Linked DNA regions of Homo sapiens. The protein of the gene in region 4 interacts with the protein of the main gene of each other region in a biochemical or structural test. Each region holds a gene or a part of one and is shown on either strand. Other genes may lie near its edges.

The links.
Region 1: the proteins of SPRTN (region 4) and KPNA4 interact in a test that uses a peptide from one of them, tested with the Homo sapiens proteins (one study listed by BioGRID).
Region 2: of the proteins of SPRTN (region 4) and USP11, one has a biochemical effect on the other in vitro, tested with the Homo sapiens proteins (one study listed by BioGRID).
Region 3: the proteins of SPRTN (region 4) and VCP form a complex in vitro, tested with the Homo sapiens proteins (2 studies listed by BioGRID).

The regions. Positions count from the first base shown.
Region 1 is NC_000003.12:160,555,572-160,559,071, reverse strand, and holds part of KPNA4 (importin subunit alpha-3), read left to right. Parts: intron 1-3,500. UniProt on the Homo sapiens protein: Functions in nuclear protein import as an adapter protein for nuclear receptor KPNB1. Binds specifically and directly to substrates containing either a simple or bipartite NLS motif.
Region 2 is NC_000023.11:47,245,838-47,248,841, forward strand, and holds the end of USP11 (ubiquitin carboxyl-terminal hydrolase 11), read left to right. Parts: intron 1-1,234; coding exon 1,235-1,384; intron 1,385-1,466; coding exon 1,467-1,582; intron 1,583-1,773; coding exon 1,774-1,862; intron 1,863-1,955; coding exon 1,956-2,093; 3' UTR 2,094-2,491; downstream 2,492-3,004.
Region 3 is NC_000009.12:35,059,052-35,062,645, reverse strand, and holds part of VCP (transitional endoplasmic reticulum ATPase), read left to right. Parts: intron 1-295; coding exon 296-429; intron 430-507; coding exon 508-643; intron 644-956; coding exon 957-1,069; intron 1,070-1,466; coding exon 1,467-1,631; intron 1,632-1,722; coding exon 1,723-1,845; intron 1,846-2,120; coding exon 2,121-2,333; intron 2,334-2,844; coding exon 2,845-3,153; intron 3,154-3,426; coding exon 3,427-3,582; intron 3,583-3,594. UniProt on the Homo sapiens protein: Necessary for the fragmentation of Golgi stacks during mitosis and for their reassembly after mitosis. Involved in the formation of the transitional endoplasmic reticulum (tER).
Region 4 is NC_000001.11:231,344,718-231,348,311, forward strand, and holds part of SPRTN (DNA-dependent metalloprotease SPRTN), read left to right. Parts: intron 1-3,079; coding exon 3,080-3,208; intron 3,209-3,594. UniProt on the Homo sapiens protein: DNA-dependent metalloendopeptidase that mediates the proteolytic cleavage of covalent DNA-protein cross-links (DPCs) during DNA synthesis, thereby playing a key role in maintaining genomic integrity.

The DNA.
Region 1 (3,500 bases), on a different chromosome or scaffold from region 4:
GTTCACAACTCAGTTGCACAAGTACTTTTTCCTTGAGACAGTCGTCCTTAAGTAGAAGTTGGTATGCAGCAGAAGTGGCTTATATGTAATCTTCATTTTTTTCACACAATTAGAAAAGGCCAATATTTAATAAAAGTAATCATTTTTTACTGTTTCCTCAAGGAATTCTTAAGTGAGCTGACTTTTAAACAAATTTTAGATGTGAAATCAGTGACAACTATTGCATCTTGATGTCATTACCTTAATTCATTCTAAAGCACCAGCAGTCTTACCCCTATGGCATCAATTCAAGTGTTAATACAATTTTTTTTTTAAAAAAAGTATTAGTATTATCATTAGGAAAATAGTTTTGACCCTGTGTACTCTCTGTAAAGGTCTCAGGACCCACATAGGGGCCCGTGGACCATGCTTTGAGTGCCACTCTTTTAGTTTACCATTGCTTCTTTTGCACATGAGTGTCACTTTTAATTAATACAGGCTCTTAAAGGACCTTATAGTATAGGGGTTAAAAGACATGGACTGTAGAGTCACTTAGGTCTGGGTTTGAACTCTGGTTTCTCCACTTAGTAATTATGGAGGCTAACTTAATTATGTCTAAGCCTTTGAAATGTTTAACAATGCCTAGCATAAAGTACATGCAGAGTAAATGGAACCTCTTACTATTTCTGCCAACTTACATAGTCATACATTGCATCCAAGTAAACCCCTATGTTCCATATCAGAATAACATTTTGCTTACAAAATTCCTCTTGTACCTCTGTGTGCCATAATCCAAACCACATCATACAAATTTGGGAAGGCTTCTTATTCCCCTTATTTAACAGTCACCTGAAAACCTACTTTCTCCCACATACTTCAGCCAAATTGTCACATACATACTAGTTTATGACTTCATTTCTTTAATCCTATGTTTTAAGTGGGTTACTAAATGCTTTATGTAGATTTTGTCACTGTTTTCTCAAAACATTGTAAATATAATCAGAAAACAACTATAATTCACACTATTTAGTACCCAGAATGAAAATGATTTAAGGTCATAGATATTTGTTGGTAATACAAGATTAAGTTGATTATTAAAGATGCTAAACTTTCCCAGGCACAGTGGCTCATGCCTGTAATCCTATTGCTTTGAGAGGCTGAGGCAGGAGGATTGCTTGATACTGGGAGTTTGAGACCATCCTAGGCAATATGGTGAGACCTTGTCTCTACAAAAAAATAAAAATAAAAAATTTAGCTGGATGTGGTGGCACACACCTGTAGTCATACCTATTTAGGAGGCTGAGGCAGGAGGATCGCTTGAGCCCAGAAAGTGGAGGCTGCAATGAACTATGACCATGCCACTGCACTCCAGCCTGGGTGACAAGAATGAGGTCTCATCTCAGATAGATAGAAATTTTTAAATGCTGACTTATTTTCTATTACTGTTTATTTACTATTCGGACAAAATTTAGTCACCTGTCATTTTTTCCCTAAATTTTTATTTACTTTAAACTTAATGTAAATTAGATTTTAACTAATGATGTATTTTGACAAACATGGAATTTCATGAATTTTTTTACTAACAAAAGTCGGAATCCTAAGATAGTATGTTTTTTACTAGTTCAGTGATGGACATATTGTCTAATATTAGAAGGTAAATCATAGTCTATCTCAGTGTCCTGTTCTTTAATAAAAACTTTAGTTTGCACATATCTACTCTTTATGTTTTTTAAAGTATGTCTTTCTGGACCCTTGAGGTAAGTGTTACATAAATTTATTTAGTTGAGTAGTTTTATCCCGAAAGACCTATGTTAAGTGGTCTCTGCTTGGTTGTATTAAATGGCCCTGTCCTGTTTGCCACCTGTTCTTCCTCTTCACACTGGCTTTTTAGCCACTTTAAGCTGTTACTGGTCCAGAAAAACAAGCAAGATAATACCTTAAGGTTTTCAAATAATTGTTAACATCACTCCTTGTTCTTTAGTAGGTGTGAAACCCAAATATTCTCCAGCTCTTTTTAAAATAGTGCAGAGGATTTGGTTCCTTGAGGCCGGGAGTTTGAGACCATCCTAGGCAGTATAGTGAGACCTCATCTCTACAAAAAATAAAAAATTTAGCTGGGTGTGGTGGCACACACCTATAGTCCTACCTATTTAGGGTAGGTTTGGTTCCTTATTTCACTTTTGAATATTATGTGGAGATGTTCATTTTACTACAGATATATCTATAGAATTGGGTTCATTGTTGATCAGCTGTTTCAGACACCTTAAATTTGTTCACGTTTTTTCTCTTAATGTTGTGAATAATTTTTCCCAATTCCCTTTTTATTCTCCAGCTTTAAAACAATGACAGTACAGGTTGAGCGTCCAAATCCAAAAATCTGAAATCCACAATGCTCCAAAATCTGAAACTTTAAGCACCTACGTGATGCTTAAAGGAAACACTCATTGGAGCATACCAGATTTTGGATTAGGGATGCTCAGTCTCTAAGTATTATGCAAACATTCTAAAATCCAAAAAAATCCAAAATCTGAAACACTTGTGTTCCCAAGCATTTCACATAAGGGATACTCAATGATGAAAAGTTTAATTAAGACCAATAAACAAATAAAAAATAGGATCCGCCTCATTAGTCATTAGGGAAACACAGCTCTAAAGCATGATGAGATACCACTTTACACCCACTAGGATGGCAGTATATAAAAAGAAAATAACAGGTGTTGGTGAGGATGTGGAGAAAGTGGAACCCTCATACATGCCTGATGGGAATGTAAAATGGTACGGCTGCTTTGGAATGCAGTTTGGCAGTTCCTCAAAAAGTTAAACAGTTAACATGTGACCCAGCAGTTCTACTAATTAGATATAAATCCAGGAGAATTGCAAACATAATGTCTGCACAAAAACTTGTAAATGAGTGTTCATAGCAGCATTATCCATAACAGCCAAAAGAGGGAAACAACTTGGCTGGGCGCAGTGGCTCACGCCTGTAATCCCAAGCACTTTGGGAGGCCAAGGCGGGCCGGATCACCTGAGGTTGGGAGTTGGGAAACCAGCACTACCAACATGGAGAAACCCCGTCTCTACTAAAAATACAAAATTAGCCAGGCATGGTGGCGCATGCCTGTGATCCCAGCTACCTGGGAGGCTGAGGCAGGAGAATCACTTGAACCCAGGAGGTGGAGGTTGCAGTGAGCTGAGATCGGGCCATTACACTCCAGCCTGGGCAACAAAAGCAAAACTCCTTCTCAAAAATAATAAATAAATATAAATAATTTAAATAAATAAAATAAAAGAAGGAAACAACCCAAATACCCATTAACTGATGAATGCACAAAGTATGGTATATGCATACAATGGAGTATTGTTCCGCTATAAAATGAAGTATAATAGTTCACCCTTATCTGCAGTTTTAGTTACCTGCAGTCAACTGTGATCAGAAACTAGGTGAATATGTGATACAACAAGATATTAATATTTAGAGAGAAAGAGATCCCACATTCACATGACTTTTCTTACAATATATT
Region 2 (3,004 bases), on a different chromosome or scaffold from region 4:
CTGGCCTATATTTAGCTCTTTAAGTATACCTTCCTCCTCCCTCCTCCACACTCAAACCCTTCTTGCCAACCTGGCCACCAATCTCCTGAGCAGACTCCTACCCCAGAGCCTTGGCCTGTGCTGTTCCTTCTCCAGGAATGTTGTTCCCAGTGATCTACAGGACTTCACTCCTTACGATGCTCAGGTCTCCGATCAAATGTGACCTCATCAGAGAGACCTCCTCTGACTACCCTGTTAAAAATCACCCTTCCCCACCATCCCTCTCCATCCCCTCTCTGCTCTTTTCTTCCTAGCCAAGCATTACTTTCTAGCTCAGCGATGCCACTTGATGTGATGTCCTGTATCCACTTTTGTGTTATTTGTCATCTTCGTTAGAGTCAACTCCTCGAGGGTGAAGACTTAAGTTCACTGTGTGTTGCTTCTACCTGTTTATAATAGTGTTGAGTGTTCGGTTGATGCTCAGTAGACACTTGCAGAATAAACAAAAAGAGAACCAAAACCACACTCCCTAGTCTCAGAAATAAGAGCAGCATGTCCGTGGAGCAGAAATGGAACAGAAATACAAAATAGTTCCAAAGGGTTAAACAAGCAATCAATAAATACTGGGGAGTGAATGAATGACTAAAATACGAAGAGAGGAAACTAGAAGGATAGAGGTGGGCTCTAAAATAAGACTAGCATCTCATGGAACAGAAATCAAACAAAAATACAAAAAATAGTATGAGCACATATACAAAAGATAGTAAGCACTTGACGAGTGAGTGAAAGGATTTTAACAGGAACAGAGCAAACTAGAATACTAGATGGGCTAATAGTAAGAGCAGTGTTTCTGTGAGCCAGACATGGCACGTGAGAGGCAGTACAAAGGGCGCACAGTAGGTGCTCAGAAAAAGTCTGTTTTGGCTGGGCATTGTGGCTCATGCCTGTCATCCGAGTACCTTGGGAGGCCGACACGGGTGGATCACCTGAGGTCAGGAATTCAAGGCCAGCCTGGCCAACATGGTGAAACCCTGTCTCTATTAAAAATACACAAATTAGCAGGGCATGGTGGTGCATGCCTGTAATTCCAGCTACTCGGGAGGCTGAGGCAGGAGAATCGCTTGAACCCAGGAGGTGGAGGCTGCAGTGATCCGAGATCGCGCCACTGTACTCCAGCCTGGGCAACAGAGCGATTCTCTGTCTCAAAAAAAAAAAAAAGAAAAAGTCCGTTTGCTGACTCGGGCTCTGTCTGTAGGTACTGCCCTTCCTGCAAGCAGCACCAGCTGGCAACCAAGAAGCTGGACCTGTGGATGCTGCCGGAGATTCTCATCATCCACCTGAAACGCTTTTCCTACACCAAGTTCTCCCGAGAGAAGCTGGACACCCTCGTGGAGTTTCCTATCCGGTCAGGGGCCAGGGAGAGGATGGCTGGGGGAAGGCAGGGAAAGGAGGGGGTGTACCAGTATTAACCCTCTCCCCACCCACAGGGACCTGGACTTCTCTGAGTTTGTCATCCAGCCACAGAATGAGTCGAATCCGGAGCTGTACAAATATGACCTCATCGCGGTTTCCAACCATTATGGGGGCATGCGTGATGGACACTGTATGTGCCAGGCTGTGGGTGGGGCCTGCCCTGGGGGTTCTGGGCAGGGGGGCGATCAGGACCTTCCCAGTGAGTGACTAGGGATGTGAGCCAGTGGTGAGGTTATCGTGGTGGGAGGAGTGACAAGAGTGAATCTGGACACTTCTGAGAGGCAGGAAGGGTAGGCGAGGATAACTCTCCTTCCCTTTCAGACACAACATTTGCCTGCAACAAGGACAGCGGCCAGTGGCACTACTTTGATGACAACAGCGTCTCCCCTGTCAATGAGAATCAGATCGAGGTGTGACTTCCATCCTACCTCCTCCCCTTCTTCCTTTCTGATTCCACCTCCCCACCCCCACAATCCACACTGACTCCTGTCCTCTCCCCACAGTCCAAGGCAGCCTATGTCCTCTTCTACCAACGCCAGGACGTGGCGCGACGCCTGCTGTCCCCGGCCGGCTCATCTGGCGCCCCAGCCTCCCCTGCCTGCAGCTCCCCACCCAGCTCTGAGTTCATGGATGTTAATTGAGAGCCCTGGGTCCTGCCACAGAAAAAAAAAAAAAAAAGCCCTCTCTGCAATCTCGCTTCTCGTGTCCGCCCCGCTTCTCTTATTCGTGTTAGGTGCCCCCGCCAGGCATTGCAGGCTTAGTCGTGGCTACTGTTCTCCTGTGCCGCTGCATCGCTCTCTCCCGGGAAAGAACAGGTCGTGTCTCCTCCTAGCAGTGCGCGCCCCGCCTGTGTTTGCCCTTCCAGCAGTGACCCTCCCTTCTAGTCTTTATTTATGGTCGTGCCCTTCCCTCTCCTCAGCCCAGAGTGTTCTGCGTGGGTGGTGATGGGGGTTCACCTGAACACAGAGTGTATTTTCTTATTGAGGCCCTGTACCTTCTGCTGTGTGTGTGTATATATAAAGCACCAGTCTGCTCCCCACTCAGCAGTGTGGTTTTTTCCTCCATGGACTTAACTAAGCACCAGTTTTGTGCCTGTGTTCTGTGTTCTTATCAAAGGCCAGATGTGTGATGGGTGCAGCTCTGAGTGGTTAGTGAGCACCAGCTGTGGGCTGGGTACTGCTGTTCTAAGTGCTTTGAAAGCACCCTCTGTGTGCCAGGCACGATTCCAAGCACCAATGGCATGCCCAGTTTTTTCCAAAATATTTTCCAAATATTGATACGTAATCCTCACAACAATCTCATGCAAGAGTTGTCATCTCCAGTTTCGGATGGGGATACTGAGGTACAGAGGTCACAGAATTGCTCAGGGCTTGTCAGGAGGTCAGTATACCTCATGTGCTACCCGAGTCGGTCCCTGGAGTGGGTGCTTGGCTTGTCTGGACCCAGGACTGCTACTCAATCTGCAGACATGAGCTGCCCTACAGGCAATGTGGAAATGGAGCACGTGGGACGGATGCATCCATGTGGGCAAATTTGTGGTTTGGGGACATAA
Region 3 (3,594 bases), on a different chromosome or scaffold from region 4:
GTGGTGTGCCATCTGGTGTGCCATCTCTCTTGCTCTAGCCAGAGGTCCTAGAGCATTTGCTGTCACCTTTACAGTTCAACTGTGAGAAGAGTATAGTGAGTCCCTGGGCTTCTCTCCAGCCTTGCCTGGTGGCTGTCCTGGGATAATGGCTGGTAGAGGATGTGAGAAGTAGGCAGAGGTTACCACCTTCTCACCCAGGACCTGTCTCTGGGCCAAACAAGCAAGATAACTGATTTTTGGGAGGAATTGGGAAAGACTATCATTTTGTTATTGTCTCCATTCTGTATCCTTTCAGGTCCTGAGATCATGAGCAAATTGGCTGGTGAGTCTGAGAGCAACCTTCGTAAAGCCTTTGAGGAGGCTGAGAAGAATGCTCCTGCCATCATCTTCATTGATGAGCTAGATGCCATCGCTCCCAAAAGAGAGAAAGTAGGAGCTTACCTGAGGGGATAGAGGGGGGTTGAAAGGCCCTGACTTCACTTCTGACCAGACATCCTGTTCTGGCAGACTCATGGCGAGGTGGAGCGGCGCATTGTATCACAGTTGTTGACCCTCATGGATGGCCTAAAGCAGAGGGCACATGTGATTGTTATGGCAGCAACCAACAGACCCAACAGCATTGACCCAGCTCTACGGCGATTTGGTAAGGACTCCAGATACTTTTGACCCCGTCCTTGCTTAGGTCCTACTTCTCTCCTTCATCTAAGTCACCTAATCCTCTTGAAGCCCTTCACAGTGATTGGGTCCAGGGGTCTTTTTCCTTTACCCTACGTCCTGTCTAGAGTGACCAACCACCCTGGTTTTCCTGAGACTGAAAGGTTTCCCAGAGCTTGAGACTTTTTTAGTGCTGGCATTAGGACAATCCTGTGCTGGCTGAGATGGTTGGTCACCCTAGGCCTGTCTCTTACCTCTGGACTAGAGATGAGCCCTGTTTATGTTTGTGTACTGTCCCACAGGTCGCTTTGACAGGGAGGTAGATATTGGAATTCCTGATGCTACAGGACGCTTAGAGATTCTTCAGATCCATACCAAGAACATGAAGCTGGCAGATGATGTGGACCTGGAACAGGTGAAGTGATGATGATGGCTGACCAGGCGTTACAGTGTCTCTAGGCAGTTGCTGGGAACTGGCTAGAGACATAAGGTTAAGATGTGAGGAGATGGGTTTTGATTTCTGGACAGGGGAAAGGAAGTAATCTGAGATTGAATCCAGGAAATGGGAGTTGGCATTTTTCATAGTTGACGCTGCATTTAGAGTAAATCAGAATTGTTGGAGCAGCCTTATTTCTAGGTCCCAAGTCCAGAATTAAGTACTTAAAACCCAGCCCATAAAGGTATTGATAGTATATATTCAAGGAAATGAGAGGACCCAGGGATAGCAGTCAGGGGAAGGATTCTATTGTCTCTGAGCCTCCTGCAGCAGCTGGGTCTTTGAGGCAGCATAGTAAGTAGATCTTTCTCTGCAGGTAGCCAATGAGACTCACGGGCATGTGGGTGCTGACTTAGCAGCCCTGTGCTCAGAGGCTGCTCTGCAAGCCATCCGCAAGAAGATGGATCTCATTGACCTAGAGGATGAGACCATTGATGCCGAGGTCATGAACTCTCTAGCAGTTACTATGGATGACTTCCGGGTAAGGACCACACCCGTGCCTCAGGTACACACATACGTGCTTTGACCCCTCCCTTGATAAGTCTCATCCCCAGTTTTCCCTCCTTTTCTAGTGGGCCTTGAGCCAGAGTAACCCATCAGCACTGCGGGAAACCGTGGTAGAGGTGCCACAGGTAACCTGGGAAGACATCGGGGGCCTAGAGGATGTCAAACGTGAGCTACAGGAGCTGGTCCAGGTAGGGCAACTTGGTCCAGGGTGAGTCACTGTCTCAGTACATTGTAATTGATCTGGGTGATCTCAGGGTGTCAACACATTTGCTGCAAGAGTTGTGAGAGCACGACTTAGGAACCTACTGTTCTTAGGTTTGAGGCACTAAGGAGTCTTCTTCTAGAGAACCTGGATCTGATACCATTGGGTACACCATGAAATAATGGAGGGGATGCTTCTGTTTAGTTAGGTTTCTTTCAAAATGTGGAGGTAGCCTTGAACCCTCTTTCCTTTTCCTCCTAGTATCCTGTGGAGCACCCAGACAAATTCCTGAAGTTTGGCATGACACCTTCCAAGGGAGTTCTGTTCTATGGACCTCCTGGCTGTGGGAAAACTTTGTTGGCCAAAGCCATTGCTAATGAATGCCAGGCCAACTTCATCTCCATCAAGGGTCCTGAGCTGCTCACCATGTGGTTTGGGGAGTCTGAGGCCAATGTCAGAGAAATCTTTGACAAGGTGAGCTACAATAGGCTGAACTATGTATTGATTTGCCTGAGGGCAAGGAATAGAGGCTGTTTTTCTTTAAGAGGGTTGAAATATTCTTAGTGCTGGCTGCTCAACTGCACAGTAAGTCACTTGATTTTCTTTCTGAGGTCTGAGAGACCTAGTGTTATTTTTTTTTTCTCTCTCTCTCTCTTGAGACAGGGTCTGGCTCTGTTGCCCAGGTTGGAGGGCAGTGGTACAGTCATGGCTCACTGTAACCTTGAAACCTGGGCTTAAGCAATTCTCCTACTTCAGCCTCCTGAGTAGCTGGGACTATAGGCATGCGTCACCACATCTGGCTAATTTTTTATTTTTTGTAGAGACAAAGTCTCAGTATGTTGCCCATGCTGGTTTCGGATTTCTGGCCTCAAGTGATCCTCCCACCTTGGCCTCCCAAAGTGCTGGGAATACAGGTGTGAGCCACCACGTTTGCCTAGAGACATCTAGTTTTGTTAGTGCTTGAATCAATCCATTCCTCCTACAGGCCCGCCAAGCTGCCCCCTGTGTGCTATTCTTTGATGAGCTGGATTCGATTGCCAAGGCTCGTGGAGGTAACATTGGAGATGGTGGTGGGGCTGCTGACCGAGTCATCAACCAGATCCTGACAGAAATGGATGGCATGTCCACAAAAAAAAATGTGTTCATCATTGGCGCTACCAACCGGCCTGACATCATTGATCCTGCCATCCTCAGACCTGGCCGTCTTGATCAGCTCATCTACATCCCACTTCCTGATGAGAAGTCCCGTGTTGCCATCCTCAAGGCTAACCTGCGCAAGTCCCCAGTTGCCAAGGCAGGTGCAAGATCATGGGCTGTGGGAGACTTGCATGAGTCCTCAGGCTGGTACGGAGTGCTCTTTAGTTTCTGGACAAGATTCCACTGGGGTTAGGGTTGGTCTAAAGGGAAGGTAGAATTTTTGAGGATATCAAGATAATCTAGAATCAGGAATAAAATGGGGTGGCCAAAGAAGGGGCAAACTGTAGTTGGGAGTGCTCGGGTAGCCCAAAGATCTGCGTATCTCGAGAGGAGAGGCTAAATGCTAAGGTACCTCTGCTGCTGCTTTTAGGATGTGGACTTGGAGTTCCTGGCTAAAATGACTAATGGCTTCTCTGGAGCTGACCTGACAGAGATTTGCCAGCGTGCTTGCAAGCTGGCCATCCGTGAATCCATCGAGAGTGAGATTAGGCGAGAACGAGAGAGGCAGACAAACCCATCAGCCATGGTGAGTCTGCAT
Region 4 (3,594 bases):
TGTCTTTGAAGATCTTTCTGATTTTTGCTTAAAAAAATTATTTATATTTTTTAGAGCAAAAACCCCAGCAATCTTAAATGCTTTTGTTAATTTTGCACAGAAACTTGTGCATCTTTGGTGTGGAATGAGCAGTAGGTTTTAGTGTTTGTTTCAAGTTTTCATGATTTCTGAATCAAAACCCAAAAGCTGTAGAAAGCTATACACAAAGATGTCTTGTTCAGTGTCCTCCTCTATCTTGAACTCCTTACTTGCTGTAGGAGCTGTTAGTTTCTTTTCATTTTTCTGTTTTGCAAATATTTCTATTCATTTTTATTCCTCCTCCCCACCATACAAAATTTTTCTTACACAAAATACTATGTACATTCTTCTGTACTTTGTCTTTTTCTTTTTCTTTTCTTTTCTTTTCTTTCTTTCTTTCTTTGTTTCTTTCTTTTTTTTTTGTTGCCCAGGCTGGAGTGCAATGGCATGATCTCGGCTCACTGCAACCTCTGCCTCCCAGGTTCAGGTGATTCTCCTGCCTCTGCCTCAGCCTCCCGAGTAGCTGGGATTACAGGCGCCCGCCACCATGCCTGGCTAATTTTTGTGTGTTTAGTAGAGACGGGGTTTTACCATGTGGGCCAGGCTGGTCTTGAACTCCTGACCTCAGGTGATCCACCTGCCTCGGCCTCCCAAAGTGCGGGGATTACAGGCATGAGCCACTGTGCCCAGCCCCCTGTCTTTTTCATTAATACGCTCTATAGCTTTCTCCAAACCATTTCATGTAGATCCTTCTCATTCTTTTTTGTGGCTGCATAGAATTCCATTATATGGATGTATAAAACACTGGAGTTATTTCTAATCTTTTGCTGTTATAAGCAGTGTCACAGTGAATACACCTTGTGCATATGACCTTGCATGCTAGTCTAGGTATTGCTCTCTCAGAAGACAAATGCATTTGTAATTTTGTTAGATGCTACCAAATTTTCCATAGGAGAATTGCACTCCCACCAGCAGTATATAGGAATGTTTATTTTCCCTTAGCTTTACTAATGGTGTCAAACTTTAGGAGTTTTACCAATCTTGATAAGCAATAAATAACATCCTAGTGTAGTGTTGGGTTTTTGTGGGGGTTTTTTGTTTTTTGAGACAGGGTCTTGCTGGGTTGTCCAGGCTGGAGGTAATCATAGCTCACTGCAACCTTGAATTCATGGCCTCAAGTGATCCTCCCATCTCCGCCTCCTGAGTAGCTAGGACTACAGATGCACAAGCTAATTGTTTTATTTTTATTTTTATTTTTTTGTAGAGACAAGGTCTCACTATGTTGACCAGGCTGGTTTTGAACTCCTGGCCTCGAGCAATCCTCCCACCTCAGCCTCCCAAAGTGCTGGGATTACAGACATGAGCCACCACGCCTGACCATCCTAGTGTAGTATTAATTCGCATTTCTCTTTTTATAAATAAAGTTGGGCATTTTTTCTTTTCTTTTCTTTTTTTTTTTTTTTTTTTTTTTTGAGATGGAGTCTTGGTCTGTCATCAGGCTGGAGTGCAGTGGTGCATTCTCGGCTCACTGCAACCTCTGCCTCCCAGGTTCAAGCAATTCCCCTGCCTCAGCCTCCTGAGTATACTGCTCGGACTACAGGCGGGCGCAACTATGCCCAGCCAAAATTTTTTTTTTTTTTTTTTGTATTTTAGTAGAGACAGGGTTTCACCATGTTGAGCAGGATGGTCTCAATGTCCTGACCTCGTGATCCGGAAGTTGGGCGTTTTTTCATTTGTTTGTGGGTCATTTATACTTCTTCTGTGAACTCCATGGTCTTTGCCCATTTTGAAATTGGGTTGTCATTCCCTGTTGACATTAGGAGCTCCTTGTATATTAGGAATAGCCTGTGATAAGAGTTATACATATATTTTTCTGAGTTTGTCTTTTTACTTGGTGTTTTTTTCCTATAGAATTTTAAAGTTTTGTCTGGGTGCAGTGGCTGACGCCTATAATCCCAGCACTTTGGGAGGCTGAGGCGGGCAGATTGCTTGAGGTCAGGAGTTTAAGACCATCCTTGCCAATATGGCCAAACCCCATCTCTACTAAAATACAAAAATTAGCCAGGCATGGTGGTGCACACCTGTAGTGCCAGCTACTCAGGAGGCTGAGGCACGAGAATCACTTGGACCGAGGAGGCAGAGCTTGCAGTGAGGAGAGATTGAGCCACTGCACTCCAGCCTGGGCAACAGAGTAAGACCCTGTCTCAAAAAAAAAAGAATTTTAAAGTTTTTATGTAGTTGAATTCATTGATTTTTCTGGATTTTGATATATAGTCAAAAAGGTCTTCCTAGAACAGGGAGTTCTTAACCTGTGATTTTCAGAGCTTTAGATGTTACACAAATTTGAGTACCCCTTCTCTGAAATGCCTGGGACTAGAAGTGTCTTGGATTTCAGATTTATTTGGATTTTGGAATATTTGTGTTATTCTTACAGGTGGAGCATCCCAAATCTGAAAATCCGCAATGCTCCAATGAGCATTTCCTTTTGAGTGTCATGTCATTGCTCAAGAGTTTCTGATTTTGGAGCATTTTGGATTTTCAGAGTTGGGATGCTCAACTCATATGCAATATTTTGTGAATGAGTGCTTATATAATTTTTATAGAATGAGGTGGGTTTTTTGTTGTTGTTGTTTTGTTTTTGTGAGACAGTGTCTCATTCTGTCCCCCAGGCTGGAGTGCAGTGGCACAATCACAGCTCACTGCAGCGTCAACCTCCCCAGGCTCAGAGGATCCTCCCACCTCAGCCTCCTGAGTGTAGCTGGGATTACAGGCATGCACCACCACACCTGGCTAATTTTTGTATTTTTTTGTAGAGACAGGGTTTCGCCATGTTGCCCAGGTTGGTCTCCAACCCCTGGGCTCAAGTGACCCTCCCACCTTTGCCTCCCAAAGTGTTGGGATTACAGGTGTGAGCCACTGCACCCGGCCTAGAATGAGTTTTATCAGTTCTGAAGGAAGCCTGTGATACAGAAAAGGTTAGACACCAGATAGAATAAGAAAATTTATATTTTCCAAAGTGTCATACAGACTCTAAAACTAATTTGAATATTTTATGTTCCAGACCCTCCTGCATGAAATGATACATGCCTATTTATTTGTCACTAATAACGACAAAGACCGAGAAGGGCATGGTCCAGAATTTTGTAAACATATGCATCGCATCAACAGCCTGACTGGAGCCAATATAACGGTATAGAAAGCCATATCTATTTATGATGTTTAGTAGTTGTTTATTCAATAACTCCTGAGATTTAATTAAAAGTAGAGAACTAGGTAGAAACAAGTATCTTTGAGGATTTTCCACAGCGAACGAGAGGCCTAGAGAAGCAAATTGGCTTGTCTGGGACTACATGGTGGAATGGCAGCAGAGCCAGTGATATCCCTGAGGCCTCTGACCTCTTCTGAGTCAACATTTTACACACAGGTAATTCAGGCCTGCAGTACGTCACTTCTGGAATCATCATGATCTCTTAACTTTGTTTCCTTATTATTGTCTTTTTTAGTCCATCCTGTATCCTGCTACCATTGCAGATGTCATTCCCTCATCAGAATTCTTCTTTGATTCATATCTCTGTA